Regions from separate parts of the Homo sapiens genome. Here region 2 is linked to region 1. A link means that fine-mapping ties the variant in region 1 to the expression of a gene that starts in the linked region. Tissue or cell type: spleen. Region 1 holds a variant in brackets; the other region holds the start of a gene. All regions are shown on one strand. Distances are between the middles of the regions.

What was found. PIP is the estimated chance that this variant, and not a neighbour inherited with it, causes the effect.
Region 2: it holds the start of ASF1A, and the variant in region 1 is fine-mapped to the expression of ASF1A in spleen (GTEx, PIP 0.97).

The regions. Positions count from the first base shown.
Region 1 is chr6:119,022,388-119,030,649 of GRCh38, reverse strand. FAM184A (family with sequence similarity 184 member A) reads left to right here. Exons shown (of 18, transcript NM_024581.6): 2 at 5,837-6,691; 3 at 7,570-7,705. All of the region lies in intron 1 of LOC124901389 (a long non-coding RNA gene), which reads right to left. Among named protein-coding and RNA genes, the nearest start is that of MIR548B, 43 kb to the left of the region's middle. The variant G/A (reference allele first, on the strand shown) is at 4,238.
Region 2 is chr6:118,890,771-118,899,032 of GRCh38, reverse strand. ASF1A (anti-silencing function 1A histone chaperone) reads right to left here and starts at 4,881. Exons shown (of 4, transcript NM_014034.3): 1 at 4,511-4,881. The coding sequence starts at 4,619. All of the region lies in intron 8 of MCM9 (minichromosome maintenance 9 homologous recombination repair factor), which reads left to right. RefSeq lists silencers at 3,687-4,216, 5,007-5,146 and an enhancer at 4,597-4,686.

The DNA of each region.
Region 1 (8,262 bases):
TTAGTGCCTTACATATATATTTTTAAATAGTTACATAACATCAATTTTTGAAATTTCAGTGATCAGTTGATCTTATATCAATGGTGCTGCTAAGGTAGATAATATGATCTTTATTTAATATTTGAGAAACTCAAAGCTTGAAGAAATTAAGTGATTTTATCTAGTGTCAAACCTTTGTTATATCTTCTGTATGTTCAAAGAACATAGGGAATTTTTATATTACCTTGATCTGAAAAATAGTGTTCAGAGAAGGACACTAATAAATAGTTACCTTTATAATTACATAGAAAAATGAACAATTAGAGGATACTATATCCAGTTAAGCTCAACTTGAAAATTCATATGTAGCATTCTTACTTAAAAATAAGTTAGTAGTGGTGTATTTCAAGTGATCACTAATGAAAGCAGTATTAATTTGTTATTATGTTTGGCTTCATTTTGTTATTTCTTTTTAAGTTTTTAGAAACTTATTTAACATGGCTTTCCTTGGGAAATACCAATATATGGTCAGCATGAATATATATTCTTTTATAAAATATGCTTCCAGAATCTCTTAATTGGTTTTCTCAGTGTATGAGTGGTAGTGGAAAGAACCCTGTACTATTTAATAGGGAGTAAACCAAGCTATTGCAAATTTAGATCTTTTATTATTTTTTATTTGTGGCTGCCAATTTTGGCTGATAAGATGGCTTTTCTATGTATAGATTAGAACAGGAGTTTGTAATAAGGTGTTTTCCACAACTACTCAACTTTGCTGTCATAGTGGGAAAGCAGCTATAGGCAATACATAAACAAGTGGACATAACTGTGCTCCAATAATATTTTATTTATTAATACAAAGACAAGCAGCAGCCATATTTGGCCTACAGGTTGTAGTTTGCTAACTCCTGCATTAGAATGTCAAGTGAAATAAAAGCTCCTCACTATAATATTTTTTAAATTATTTGCCATGTTTTGTTTACTTAAATCCTATTCTAACTTAATGCTTTAATTTGTACATTTTTCTTTTTAAATTTCACCTTTTTGATTGCTACCGTGCTTTTATATCTTCAGCTTCTTTTTAGGGTCTCTAATATCCTCATACATCTTTCCAACCTTATCAAGACTCCTCCAAATTTAATTATATATTTACTGACAATCAGGAGTGAGTGAGGTAAGGCAATGGAGGTTCTAGATATAAAGAAAAGATAGACTCTTATGGATTTGGGTGGTCATGGAAGACTCATTAAAGGAGGCAGGACTGGAACTGATTCATCAAAGCTTCGAGGGAAATTTAATATTAGAAAAAAGAGAAGATTATTTCAATAAATTGTCGACAAGGGGAAACTCACATATTTCCTCCTTCCCTCATTTCATCCCCAAAATATGAATTCCACCAGGGACTGGTTCTTTCCCAGATCATTTCCTGGAACAGAATGCACAGAATGCTAATGATGTGACTTAGTTCTCTCTTTGGATTTTACCTCGTTGAATTCTCTTTTCCTTCCTTGTGGCTAGGACTGACCAGCCTTGGAAAGGCCTGAAGCCTGTGGCCTATACCAGTGTTGCTCTAGGCACTCTAGCAAATGGGCTTCTCTCTGGCTGGTTGGCTTGTTTTTCCTTAGTGTCCCTATATGAGATAGGAAAAAACAGGTTTTCCTACCCTTACACTGGATAGAACACATAACACCTCACCTCTGGTCACCAAAATGTGTGTGGATTTTCTCTCCCAACAACCAGTTCTCTAGTGGACACCAAATGAGTATACTATAATTCAGTTCATTTCTGACACTATCTGCCTGAAGATAGCATCAGATTCCACAGGTTAAAGGCTCAATCCCACAAGACTGCCCTCATTCAGATGCCAACTGCAAGTTCTTCTGGCAAAAAAGTAAGTAGAGGGTTCACACTACCCTCCCTTGGGTTGGATTAATTTGCTAGAATGGCTCTCAGAACTCAGAAAAACATGTTTACCCCCATTTATAGGGTACAGAAGAAGTTAGTTAGAGGGAAGAGATGCATAGGGCAGGGTCTGTGGGAAGGAATGTGGAGTTTCTTTGCATTTTCCAGGCATGCCACCCTCCCAGCACCTCCACGTGTTCAGAAATCTGGAAACTTGACTTTTGTGTTTTTATGAAGGCTCCGCTGTGTAGGCATGGTTGATTAAATCATTGGTTGTTGGTGATCAACTCAACTCTCCGACCTTGTCTCCTCCCTAGAGGACCCTGTATGGGGCTGGAAGTTCCAACTGTATAGTCACATGATGGGTTCCTCTGGCAGCCAGCCCCAATCCTGAGGCCTTCCCAAGAGCCCACTAGGAGTCATGTCATTAGAACAAAAGATGCTCCTATCCCGCAAGAGATTCCAAGGGATTTAGGAGCTCTGCTGTTAAAGAACAGAACTGGAGTCTGCTCAACTGGCACAGTGAAAACACACATCAAGGTTTTTGCAGTGACAGAAAGTTGCCTATTGCAGAGTGCTAAGCAGGGGGGGACCAGCCAGCTAAATGCTCAAATCTGGCCTCCCTGATGGCTTGCAGGCAAGGATTTTTAGGCTTGCAGGCAAGGATTTTTAAAGGCAGGGGTAAATTTCAAGAAAGCAGAAGCTACAGGCAAAATCATAAATCAATACAAGGAGGTTACACATTGGCTTAAGCTTAAAAGGGCAGGACATTTGAAGTGGGGGGCACTCACAGATGGTAGGTAGATTCAGAACTCTTCGGATTTGCAGTTGATTAAGGAAGGGAAGCTTTGTTTAAAACATTTAAGTTCAGTAGAAAAATGCTGACTTGCTAGAGGGAATGACTTTCTCTAAGTTCCTCAGGAAGAAACTTACTAATAAAACAAAGGGTAATAGCTAAAATTTAGTCTTCATTTCCCCCTTATCTGGAGTCTGTATGCCAGCAGATCCATTCAGTGGGGTTTCAAGCCTCTAAAAGACAACTCAAGGATGTATGTTAGGATGTTATCTTTAGTTTCTGTAGGAAAAGCAAACATCTCTGGAGCTTTAACTTCCTTGGCTATTGTTCTGCTACCTTTTCGTTTAACAAGTTACTGAATTACCTCCGGGGCTAGCTAGATGCCTGGAATGTTTCTTAAAGGAACTTTGGGGTTTTCCTTTATTTCCATGTTTGGGGGTTTGCAGGTCCCTAAAAGGAGAGGTGGGGTCCCTGCTATATTTCACTGTGTCCAATGATCCTATCGCACAGGAAATTACAAAAGTCTTAGGAGCTCTATGTCAGGAACTGGGGGAAGAGACCAAATATATATTTCTTATGTAAACCAAAAAGTATGTGAGACAGGTCTCAGTCAATTTAGAGGTTTATTTTGCCAAACTTAAAGACCATGGTCTGTGACACAGCCTCAGGGAATCTTGAGAACATATGCGCAAGGTGGTTTGGTTACAACTTGGTTTATACATTGTAGGGAGACAGAAGTTACAGGCAAAGACATAAATCAGTATGTGTAATGTTCAGCCTGGAAAGTGGGACATCTCTAGGTGGGCGTGAGGGAGGTTTTAGGTCATAGGTGGATTCAGAGATTTCCTGATTGGCAATTGGTTGAAAGAGGTAAGCCCTGACTAAAGAGTTGAATTCAGCATAAAGAAATGCTTGAGTTTAGTTAGATAAGGGGGTTGTGGACGCCAAGGTTCTTGTCATGTAGATGAGGCCTCCAGGTAGCAGGCTTCAGAGAGAATAGATGGTAAATATCTCTTATCAGACCTTAAAAGGTGTCATGCTCTCTGGAGAAGACCGAGTATGGGAAGGAGATTCTCTACAGAATGCAAATTTACTTTACAGGAGGCAGCTTTACAGGGGCATTTCAGAATATGGAATGTCAAACAAAAAAATTTTAGGGTAAAATACTTTGATTTTCTTCAGGGCTTGCAATAAAATACCAAACTCCAACCTGACTCTTGGTATAGTATCACATGATGTTGTTTGGAATTTGGTATTTTATTGCTATGAAGAGTCTGTTTTGTCAGTCTTATGATCTCTGTTTTAATGTTAACGTCGGTCAGTTGTGTCTAAATCCCGAAGTATAGAGTGCAGAAAAGCCCAGCATGTCCAATCCATAATGAGGCATGTCTGACCCCTCCCTTTCAGTCATGGCCTAAACTATTTTTTCAGGTTTCTTTGGGGTCCACTTGGCTAAGAGGAGGGTCCGTTCAATCGGTTGGGGGCTTAGAATTATATTTTTGGTACACTTGTTATATCACAGATCCTTTCAGTCTTTTATGGCCATTTGACTTGGTGGGC[G/A]GATATGACCCAAGGGGATGGGAATAGGAAGTCAGTCAGCTTTCTTGGCTTATAAGCTACCTTTATGAGTAAATGTGTAAATGAAGGAGTCCTGCTTGGGATCTGTGTTACCTTATTGGGAACATAATTTGGAATTTGAAATTAGGGTTTTTTAAAAACAGAATGTGAATAAGTACTTCTGTTCACATTTTTTCCTGTAGACTTTGCAAAAAGGGATAGCATGGCAAGACAGATGGGTTCCTGCCATCTCTCAATCTTTTTACCTTTGGTATGATGGCAGACTAAGCGAGTATATGGACAGGGCCACTGGATCTGGAAGACAAAGCCCTATGTGGAGAAAGTGATGCCCCTGTGTTGAGGCAGCCTTCTTGTTTCTTTTGCAAGCACAACTGCTGTCCCAGACAGTGACAGCCTATCTTTAGCGAGTGGGATCTGGAGTTACTGTGGTATTTGGAGAGCCAGCCAGTCTGCCACAGTTACCTCAGGCTGCATGAATAATTTCTCTACAAAAAATGGCAGCAGTTTTCCATCATAACTGCAGTTTCTGGTATCTGATGCTGGAATTCATTTCTAAAGCCAGAGTAATATCACATTAAAATGAGCAAATCTCCAGACACTGATTTTTAGCTGCTGGATTTTTTGATTGTACAGTGTTTACTTCTTTTCGCTTCCGGGGGAAGAAAGTGGGCTCATCTCAAAGCCTTAAATAACAGTCATGAAAATTTCACCGTGTGACCACAGTGGCATGATGGATGGCATCCGAGGAACAGAGGGAAGGAAGGAGAGTGTTACTGTGCAGGGAATTTGTTGTCATTTGAAATTAAGGTTGGGACATCTCAGTGAAATCATTAAAACCTAGGAACTAAAATGAAAATAAAGACCTGTACTCAAAACTCTGGCTTAAGGAATTGGGTTGCTTGGAGGCAGAGAGAAAATTAGCCAAAGAGTAAAACTACAGCATTTGAAATATGAAGAGAAAAAGTACAAATTGGATTTTATAAAGAGATCACTAGAAACTTGAAGAGAGAAGAGGATCAGCTTTAGAAGCAAACTATAGGGGAATTGGGAAAGGAAAGTTTAAAATTTGAAATATTTAAACAGGCCATTACAAAGATAAAAGGCTTTTGGGAAGACTTAGGGCCTAGGGCTTCTCTTCATGTGAAGCCTCTCGTATCTCTAGGACACCAATATAGGGCAGAGTCTTACTATGAGACTTTTTCTCCTGAACACCCCTTCACAGTCCCCGGTAAGCTAGATTGGGACATATGAGAACTCCTTTCTCTTAGGCCAATTGCCTCCTTTGTCCATTTCCTCTTTGCTGTTTCATTTGTAGTAAAAAATAGTCTTAAATTTGAATGTTTTAAAATTATAACTAAAAAGTCTTTAAATACAAATCTTAAGACTGTGCTAAGATAGAAATTTGCTAAGCAAATCAATCTATGAGTAAAAAAACAATTGCATCAAGATTCCATATTTAACATTAGCTGTAGCCAATATTATGTGCATAGAAAAATATCAATCCAAATGAAAGAATTGACTTCAAGTTAGAAAATAATATGGATTCACAATCCTTCTCCCTTCTTATTCAAAACCATGCAGGTAATATATGCTTTAAACACTAAAAATGATGAGCATGAATCTGCAATTCAAGCCCTCAAAGATGCTCATGAAGAAGAAATTCAACAAATTCTTGCTGAAACAAGAGAAAAAATATTGCAGTATAAAAGCAAAGTAACAGAGGAGCTAGACCTTAGAAGAAAGATTCAAGTTTTAGAATCATCATTAGAAGATCACATAAAAATGAAGCAGCAGGCTTTGACAGAATTTGAAGCTTATAAGCACAGAGTTGAGGACATGCAACTTTGTGCAGAAGCCCAGCATGTCCAACGCATAGTGACCATGTCTAGAGAAGTCGAAGAGATTAGAAGGAAATTTGAAGAAAAATTACGGAGCTTTGGACAACTTCAAGTACAGTTTGAAAAAGACAAACGATTGGCATTGGAAGACTTGCAAGCTGCTCACAGACGGGAGATACAAGAGCTATTGAAGTCACAGCAGGATCACAGTGCCTCAGTAAATAAAGGCCAGGAAAAGGCAGAGGAACTACACAGAATGGAGGTGGAGTCCCTAAACAAAATGCTTGAGGAGCTAAGACTTGAACGGAAGAAACTAATTGAGGATTATGAAGGCAAGTTGAATAAAGCTCAGTCCTTTTATGAACGTGAGCTTGATACTTTGAAAAGGTCACAGCTTTTTACAGCAGAAAGCCTACAGGCCAGCAAAGAAAAGGAAGCTGATCTTAGAAAAGAATTTCAGGGACAAGAAGCAATTTTACGAAAAACTATAGGAAAATTAAAGACAGAGTTACAGATGGTACAGGATGAAGCTGGAAGTCTTCTTGACAAATGCCAAAAGCTTCAGACGGCACTTGCCATAGCAGAGAACAATGTTCAGGTAAGTAAAGAATATTATATTCAACACATGGATTTTTTTTCTTTTAAAAATATTTGTTTTGTAGGCTGGAGAGCAGTCTGGCCCACTTAGAATCAGTGGCTTCACACCACTTAGACTTTTTTTTTTTTTTTTTTTTAACTTTTCCTGCTTTTCCTTTGTGAGAAAAATCAATGACAGGATAATTTGTATTACCCTGTAGTTGTTATTTCAGACTTTCAGATATTAGGGGCCCAAAAAGACAAGCTTAAAACCTTGTCTAATTATTGGCTAGGCACAGTGGTACACACCTGTAATCCCAGCACTTTGGGGGGCCCAGGCAGGAGGATCGCTTCAGGCCAGGTGTTAGAAACCAGCCTGGGTGAGTGAGCTTAGCGAGGTAATACGCTGTTCCTGGGGGGGGGGGCGGACAATATTGCTAATTATTTACAAAAGGATTTTAATATTGGGCTTAAAGTTTAAATACATTTTTTTCTTTTCCTTTCACTAATAATGGTTTGCCTGCTAGCTGATATTTAGAATTTGATCAAGAAATTGCTTGCTTTCTAAACCTGAATTTAATAGGGGTATTGCACAAGTCTGGGGGAAAAAAATGCCGGAAGTCCACAAGTTTTGTTTTGTTGGCTTAGAAAATTTCATAGCCATGTTTTTAATATCTGTGCAACATTAGAATGGATTAGAAAGTGTGGAATAGCCTTTCCTGATTGGGTCATGTTTATGAAAACATCAAGTTATAAATCACTAATACTTACAGATTTAAAAATTGGTATATAGTTTAGTATGACTTCTGAATAAGAGAAAGCTGACCCTTATAATTTAAATGAATTATTTAGCTTAGTATTATTCCTGCATTTTAACAATGGCTATTTAATCTTTCTTAGGTTCTTCAAAAACAGCTTGATGATGCCAAGGAGGGAGAAATGGCCCTATTAAGCAAGCACAAAGAAGTGGAAAGTGAGCTAGCAGCTGCCAGAGAACGTTTACAACAGCAAGCTTCAGATCTTGTCCTCAAAGCTAGTATGTGTGACCACAGTTTTTGATGTAATGCTTAGCTAAAATCAACACTTTATTTATTTATTTTTTTGGAGACAGAGTCTTGCTCTGTCGCCCAGACGGGAGTGCAGTGGCTCAATCTCGGCTCATTGCAACCTCTGCCTCCTGGGTTCAAGCAATTCTCCTGCCTCAGCTTCCTGAGTAGCTGGGACTACAGGTGCCCGCCACCATGCTTGGCTAATTTTTTTGTATTTTTAGTAGAGATGGAGTTTCACCGTGTTGCCCAGGCTGGTCTCGAACTCCTGAGCTCAGGCAGTCTCCCTGCCTCAGCCTCCCAAAGTGCTGGGATTACAGGCATGAGCCACCACGCTCGGCCCCAACACTTAAATGTTAATTTAAGGTAGCATTTATTTTTTCTTCTAACATTTTAAAACTATTTAGACTGTAAATAAGTTAAAGGACTCAATATGTTACTAATTACTTATAAGATACACAAATATTTTTTATTTTTAGGAATATATTTTTATAGAAAACTTGAGAGTTTTCCTTTGTGAGGAAAAATACCAATAGCAGGTAAAATA
Region 2 (8,262 bases), 130 kb after region 1:
TGATGTGGGGTAGGGGAGCAATCAGGAGTTCATTTTAGACATATTTGAGATGTCTGCTTCTAAGCAGAGATACTGAATAGGCAGGATAAAAATTTGGAACCTGTCAATGATATGTAAAGCCATAAAAATACATGGGCTTGCTCTAGGGAGTGAGATTTGAGCCCTCCAAAGATAAGAGGACAAATTAAGTTACAAAACAAGTGGCAAATGAGGTAGGTGACCCAAAAGCCAAGTGAAGAAACTGTTTTAAGAAAGTGATGTGAAAGGTACTAAACTAGCCAAGTGAGGATAAGACTAAGAATTATCACATAGAGTGGCTGGGCGCAGTGGCTCACGCCTGTAATCCCAGCATTGTGGGAGGCTAAGGTGGCTGGATGGCTTGAGGTCAGGAGTTCGAGACCAGCCTGGCAAACATGGTGAAACCCCATCTCTACTAAAAGTACAAAAATTAGGGGTGGCACATGCCTGTGGTCCCAGCTACTCGGGAGGCTGAGGCACAAGAATCGCCTGAACCCTGGAGGCGGAGGTTGCAGTGAGCCGAGATCGCGCCACTGCACTCCAGCCTGGGCAATGGAACGAGATTGTCTCCAAAAAAAAAAAAAAAAAATTATTACATAAAGGTTTTCATGAATTTTAATTTCATATATAATTGTATCACTACATATAATGCCCTTGATCCTAAGTGGTATAAATTCGCATTTGTGGACTGGCATAGGAACATAGCCATAATTTATAAACCTATTTTAGAAAATACCTACTATATACTGGGCATTAGTTCTACTTCATACCTATTGTTTAAACCTCAACAGCTTCATCATGTAGATCAAATTATCCCCATTATGCAAATAACTTGAGACTCTGAGAGGTTAAGTAATCTACACAAATTCATAATTTGTACATCAAAGAATCAGAATCCAAGCTATGCCTCTGTAACTACAAACCCCGGGCTTCTTCTGAAAACCTAACTGGGAAGATAAATTCTTTCTAGCTCTGAAATTAGCAGTGGAATAAGGGAATTTATTTGCAGGGGAAGTGAGAGCAGAGGAGATGGAGAGAGAATCTAGCCTTAACAAGAACAGGCTGCAACTCAGGGAACACTTGTACATTGATTTTTATGTTTATGGGATGCTTGCTACAGTTGCTGAGTTTTACATGCTCAATACCCTTTTATACATTGGCATCAGTTTTTTTGTTGTTTTTTTTTTTAACCCAGCTTTCATTTAATTCCTCTGCCCCCTGTATTTGAGGGAGGAAGGGTAAGGTCAGATGTTTTACATAAGTTCTCAGGTGAAGAAATTTGTTCATTTATTTTAAAGTTAACTTTTATTTAATCACAGTAATCATGATTAAATGATTTACCCAGCCTGAAAGTATTTACATTTGTGGTGAAAGAGTGAGTGAATGAGGGAAGTCATCAAGAGAATTTTTAGCTAATTACACTACTTGGGAAGACCTGTGGTCTAGTGGAAAGTATGTAGGCTTTGGAATTAGAACAAGCTGAAGTTGGAAAGTATGAAGCACCATGCTCAATTCTGGTATATTATAAGTATTCAATTGACAGTAGCTGTAATTAAGATATATATATATATAAATTTAAGAATGGCAGGATGGTCAATCAAAACTTGTACAGTCTTGGTGACCATCAAGCACATCCAGCCAGGGTCTCAGGCTGTCTTAACCCTTGATATAAGCCCTATATTAGAAAGAACCAAATTATCTTAAGACCAAATATTCCTCAAGGCTTTTTCTGAAGCAAAGCTACAGGGCAGCTCTTAAAGGAAAGTGAACGTTTGGGGCTACTGATGAAAGTATGAAAAACGGTGGCCAAACTCTGCTTTGAGACTTGAGGCAAAATAACTTATTAAGAAAATTCTTTTCAAAATATTCTATAGTTTGGGCTGGGTGCAGTGGGCTCACTATAATCACAACACTATGGGAGGCAGGGGTGGGAGGACTGCTTGAGCCCAGGGGTTCGAGACCAGCTTGGGCAACATGGCAAAACTCCGTCTCTACAAAAAATTAAAAAATTAGCCCAATGTGGTGGCACATCGACTATGGTCCCAGCTATTCAGGAGGCTAAGGTGGGAGGATTGCTTAAGCCCAGGTTGAGGCTGCAGGGAGCAGCTGTGTTTGCACCACTGTACTCCATCCAGCCTGAGTGCCAGAGCAACACTGTCTCATTTAAAAAAAAAAAAATTCTATAGTTTAATTTTAAGAACAGAATTTTTAAAAGAACTGTAATATAAAAGTATGGAACCTATTAGAAGCCTTTGCTAAGTAAAAATTTCCTTAATCCACATAGCCTCTAGGTGGAGTATACAGGCATGGCACCTTTTTGAAAGATTCCTTTGCAGCTTCAGTATGACTCAGCTTAAAATATTTTTTAAAATACTAAATAAATGCTCAGTAATGGTGCCTAGGAAGTGAAATATACCATTGGAAATAAGTATGTTTTTGACACCAGTACTGTAAATCCCTGATGTGATTCAGCTGGGTTCTGAATGGATCCCAGTTAAAAATGGAACGTTTTGGCTTTATGAATGGCTGGTTTCATCTATGCAATGTAAAAGCCCTGTAACGACATCCTGAGTCATCTATCTTCTTTGTTCAGAGCTGACTCCTAAAATGGAAGGCAACACTTGAGAAATACCTGTAATTTGAAGAACTTCTGGTGGTATATCTGAAAAACAGTGTGGTATAAGTTGGAATGGACCGATCAATGGTTTTTCTTTTGTCTATTTTTATATGCAGTTGGCAATAAAAAAAAAATTACTGTTGGGTGTGAAAAATGGGCCTGGTAGCTGCAATGCTTATATTAATAGTAGTATCATAGGAGAGTAATCAAATGACTTCAGAGTAATAAGAAAAATACCCCTTAGTGTTATCAATGGCCTATTTGAAATTATTTTAATAAATGAATCATCTTTCAAAATTTGCCCTATATATGTATGTGCATTTATGCTCTATATAGGTTTAAAAAAAAAAAAAAAACGGGGGCACATGTTAAAGTAATAATTGTGATTACCGAAAGGAGATAGGGCAAGGCACTGAGTACAGAGAACTGTTAACTTTATATATGCCTGTACAACTTTCTAAAAGTTTATTACAATGAATATATATTGTTTTATAATTAAAATTAACCTTACATATGATATATACATTTTAGAGATTAAAAACTAGTTTTTAAAATGAAAAGTTTTACATGCCACGATTACCTAAATCATCTTCAATGCATTTTTTACATATACTTCTAGTTCAAAGTATGTCCCTCATCGATGAAGTTAAACTATTTCCCCTTCAAAACTGGCAAATGAAGCACTGAATTACTTTAGTAAAAGATAATTAAAGCAAAGATAATTGTCGTTTTAGCTTTCTAAATATTTATTACTAAAGATATTAAAAATACGTATTTTTAAGACCTTAAAATATATGTAGAAAAAATACCAAGAATTCTTGGACTGACATGAGGAGTTGACCTTAATTTCCTAGCCTACGTTTGTGTTTTATGTTTAGGGTGTGTTCTGTATTTGGATGTGGAGTTATTTTAGATTTCAACACGGTCTTGAAGAAAGTCTTCCTTCAGACTATTTATAAGGCAGAGATTAAGTCCTGGAAATTATTTAAGTATCTTATTTCTGCTTTTAGGTTAAATGTAACTTCCTACCTCAGCTCTATTTCTCTTCCTGAAATTAGCTTTTCGTCATTAGGGGAAAGGAGTCCACGTTGGTTGGGGAGCCTGCGCGCCAGCATCCCGGCGCATCCCGGGCGCCGGCCGAGGAGGACCGGCCGAACAGGACCCACGGCCCCCGGGGAGCGCCGGCGCCCAGCCCGCGGCGCGGAGGGGCCGAGCCTGCGCCCGCCTCCCCCGCTGGTTGGTCGAGGAAGCCAGAAATCAGCGCGAGGACAGCCTCGCTCTCCTCCCCGAAGCGGCCAGGCATGGCCAGCCCGGAGAGTGCGGCGACTCCACCGTGAGCTCTCGAGAGTGCCTGCCTGCCTTTCGCCGGGGGCAGGCGGGCGGCGGGGCAAGAGGAGGCGCCGTGCGCCGGGGTCGCTGGCCCAATTCTCGACTCGGGGTAAGATGGCTCCGCTCCGAACTCGCCGGCGCGACCACACGCACAGCCTCTCCCTTCCCAGCCTCCGTGCTCGGGCCCGGAGGGTCGCGGAGGCTGTTGGCGGCGCGGAGCCAGCCCGGCGCGACCTCAGGCGGCGCAGCGGGAGCGAGTGCGGGTCTCCGAGCTGCCCGCCCGCAGACAAAGCTGACAACATGGCTACCTCCGCTCCTCCGCTCAAACAAGTTCCTCGCAAGTTGAGCCCGGCAGGCGCCTGGGCTGCGGCGGAAAGCCGCGCGCGCCTCGGCGGCCGTCGTCCATCAACTTCAAGTTTCCCTCCGCAGAGCAGCCCGCGGCCGCCAGGCGCCGAACACAGCCGCCCAGCGCGAGGCCCGGCCCGGGAAACTTTCAACGTCTGCAGCCCGCAACTGACAGCCCGGGCGCACGGGCGCCGCACTCACCTTCAGACAGGTCCTCGATGCACTCGAAGGTGATCTCGAACTGGAACGGGTTGTAGAAAGGAGAAGGGTTATCCAGCACCACTACATTGTTCACCTGAACCTTTGCCATATTTTGAAAAAAACACAAACAATGGGAACTGGGGCTGGTTGCGGCACAATAAAGTCCAGCGCGCGGCCGCTCGGGAGAGCGCAGACCCCCGCTCCAGCGCCGGCCAGACGTCGTGCAGCGGCGACTTGAGAAACTTTTTTCCTCTTTTTATTTACACGGGAGCACTCCACAGTGTTTTGCAGCTTTCCTATTTCACTAAACTACAGCCCATTCTGCTCTGATAAGTAGCAGCGTTGCCCTCGATTGGCTGCACCCGAGTTCTGACCCTCCTCCTCCAGCGAGGGCCTCGGCAGCCAGCAAGATGGGCTCCCGCTCCCGGAATGGACTCGGAAACTTTAACTGCGGCTCCACCTGCTGGTGTGGATTAGGACAAAGGCGGAGAACAAAGTGAGTGGAATAAGGGCTGGGAGGCCCGCGCGGAGGCCGCCGGCGGCGGCGCGGAGAGGGGCGGAGGGGGCGTGGCCGCGGCGGGGAGGCGTGGCTGCGGCGGGAGGGCGCGATCCGGCCGACGCCCGCCCCTCCAGTTGGCTTCGTGTGGGTGTTTTGGCGTTTTTTTGTTTTTTTTTTTGTTTTTTTGGTTTTTTGATTTAACGCTCTTTTTACATCAGTGCAACAGCTTTGCCGGCCTTGCTGAATTTAGCAGATGAGAGTCGGTGTTTACACTGGGTTAGGTTCAGCTTTCTGCGTATCGGGTAGTATTTGGAGTAGAGAGAAAGATTGGCTGCAGGGGAAATAAATTGCATGTTATAGACCGATGTCAGCTCGAAAGGAGCAAAGCCATTTTGGAAATCTAGCTCTTGGCCAGTATCTACGTTTAGGCACGACAGCGCCGTTAAGCAACACAAAATGAAGGGCGAGGAATGATTTTCTACACACTGTGCTTGGAAAATTTAAATAGGTAACCTTTGGGCTTGCACCTGGGCGTCTTCTTCGGAGTCCAGATCTGGGAAGTCCTAGAATAAAAAAAAATCACAAGAGGTGTGATCAGTTATACTTCAGGTTACTGCCATTTGGAGAGCATAGCAGGAACATAAAAGGAGAAAATGGAAGTGTTAGGAGACCAACAGGGCAACAAACGTAATAGAGATGGGAAAAAGAACACAAAGACATAGCAAGACATTTGATCTTCAAAAAAATTTCTGACCTAAACCGTTAGTAAAGCAAATTCTGAGGAGCCCTTGCTTGCCTGTAACCAGTTGAGGTCTGAACTGAGGAAATGTTGATTCGTTTATGCTGCTTGGCTACCATTGCGGGGAAAGAGAAAGCTTTAACATATTTGTGAGCCTAAACCGTTTCTATTTAGTAAGTGGTATAAAGGTTTGTTTTATTATCTGCTAGCCATAAACCATCATTTTTTTCCTTAAATGTTGTGAATGAAACCACCAAACTTGGCCAAATTCAGAGAGAAAATTAATTCTTAAGTATGTGTTCTGGAAGAGTTTTCTCTTAGTATAGTGCCCAGAATTTTGATTTGTCATTCTTTGGTCATTGTTCATACTTAAGTAGGTGGCTTTTGATGAAACGTTTTCATCTGATGGTCTTTTGAAAGTTAATGTGAGACAGCTAATGTCAACCCCTCGTACATTTAGGAAAACCGGTTAGAGTGGGGAAGAGTTCCCTTTTTTTGTCAGTGGATTGAACAGTTAGATATAGGACCTACCAAAAAACACTTCTTCAAGCCAGTTGTTTGTGACATTAGAGTATTAAGAGTCAAACCATGGTGATAGACACAGATTTTTGTGGCTGATAAACAACATACTCTTCATTCTTATTAGTGCTGGTCCTAACACTAGCAGATAAAGTGGAAATTGCTGTATGCTGTAAGACACTCTGTATATGTAAGATAAAATGACCATTTGAAGATTAAAACTCCTGTGAGACTGGTGTATGCAGTTGTCTGATTATTACAGGTACTCTTAAGAGGAGAGTCTAGTCAGTCTCATGAAAACGACATTTTATGCTTGTTAAAATCACGTGCATTTTGCAGTCTGACCGTAAGTGTTACAATGAGACTAGTTGTAAAACTCACTTTTGGTGGATGTGCAGCATGAAGGACTGAGAAGATCTACCTGAATGCCACTAATTTGGCTTATTTTCTTTAAAATTTTTTGTTTAACACATCATATGCAACAGTATTTAAGAAGAAAAAACTCCCCAACATTTCACTGGAAGCTGCAAGAATTAGCTCCAGGCTTCTCCTGTCTTAACTCTTGTATTATTGCTTGTCAGAAATACTAAAGGGTCGTTGAGCACTTTGTTCAATAGTTTCCTCACCATTGATACTACCTTACTCCAGGAGAGACCGAAAGGATTCCTCAGATATGTCCTGGCATATTTCTAATTTAACTGGTATGCTGTAGGAAAAAAAGAATTGTGAAAGCCTCTCTCTGGTTTCAGAGGCAATCAGTAGGACTTGTTGCTGAACAACTTTGGTGACTCCCAAACATCTAATTGTACAACAGATGGGTCACTGTGAATGTCTTTATTAAGTACCCAAGGGGGTCCCACATAATGTTTGGAGGGCTGCATGGAATGTAATCCCCCAATCACTTCTCACTATGGGTTACTTGGGGGAAGGATGGCTGAGAGAGATTTTATCGGCTCTAAGATGAACAGAACAAAGCCTAAACTAGTGCTTAGGGCAGAAATACATGAAACTAGTTAGTTGTTGTTTTAGACTGAATTATGTCTCCCCCAAATTCGTATGTTGAAGCACTAATCCCTAGTACCTCAGAATGTGACTGTATTTGGAGATTAAGTTAAATGAGGTGATTGGGGTGGGCCCTAATCTAATCTAGCTGGCGTCCTCACAAGGGGAAATTTAGATTTACAGAGAAGCACAAGGGTCACACGCACACAGAGGAAACACAGCAAAAAGGTGGCCATTTGCAAGCCAAGCAAAGAGGCTTTAGAATAAACCAAACCTGCCAACACCTTGATCTTGGATTTCTAGCTTCCAGAACTGTGAGAAAGTAAATTTCTATTGTTTAAGCCACCCAGTGAGTGATATTTTGTTATGGCAGCTCTAACAACCTAATATAGCTATAAGATATTTTTCCCCTCAGAATTAAGCTTATTTGAGCATCTAATCTTACTGAATCCAAATATTGGTCAGTTCCCAAGCACTTCCTGTGGGTGAAATGATGTGGTCCTTTAGCCATGCCAGTAAGGGTGTGGCGTATGTGGAGTGGTGTGCTGTTGCCATTCTTCAGAGGAAGTATATACCACTGGGCATATAGCTTGAATTCTGAAGACACAAGATGCAGCTTACTTGCATGGATTCAAGACTCCTCTACAGAGAAGTGAAACTTGAAGTCAAATTGAGGTCATACACAAAACAAGATGAAAGAGCGAATTCAAATATACTAAAATTGAATTAAATCAAAATGTGCCAAATTAAAATACATTAGAACTAGGAATTAAATTGAGTGTCAGCCCGTGTCTACTGCAAAAGTTATCATAGGAATGGAAGTACTAACCTCTAGCTTTTGTTCAAATCTAGATTTCCACCTCGGGTAATCACTGTGTTGAATTGTCTTCTCATTTGTATTATTACCAACTTAAAAAAATTCCTCATGTAAGGCTTGTTTTAATATGGTCTTTAGTTAGTTTAAGAGGCTCCTTTTTATTTATTAGAAATAGG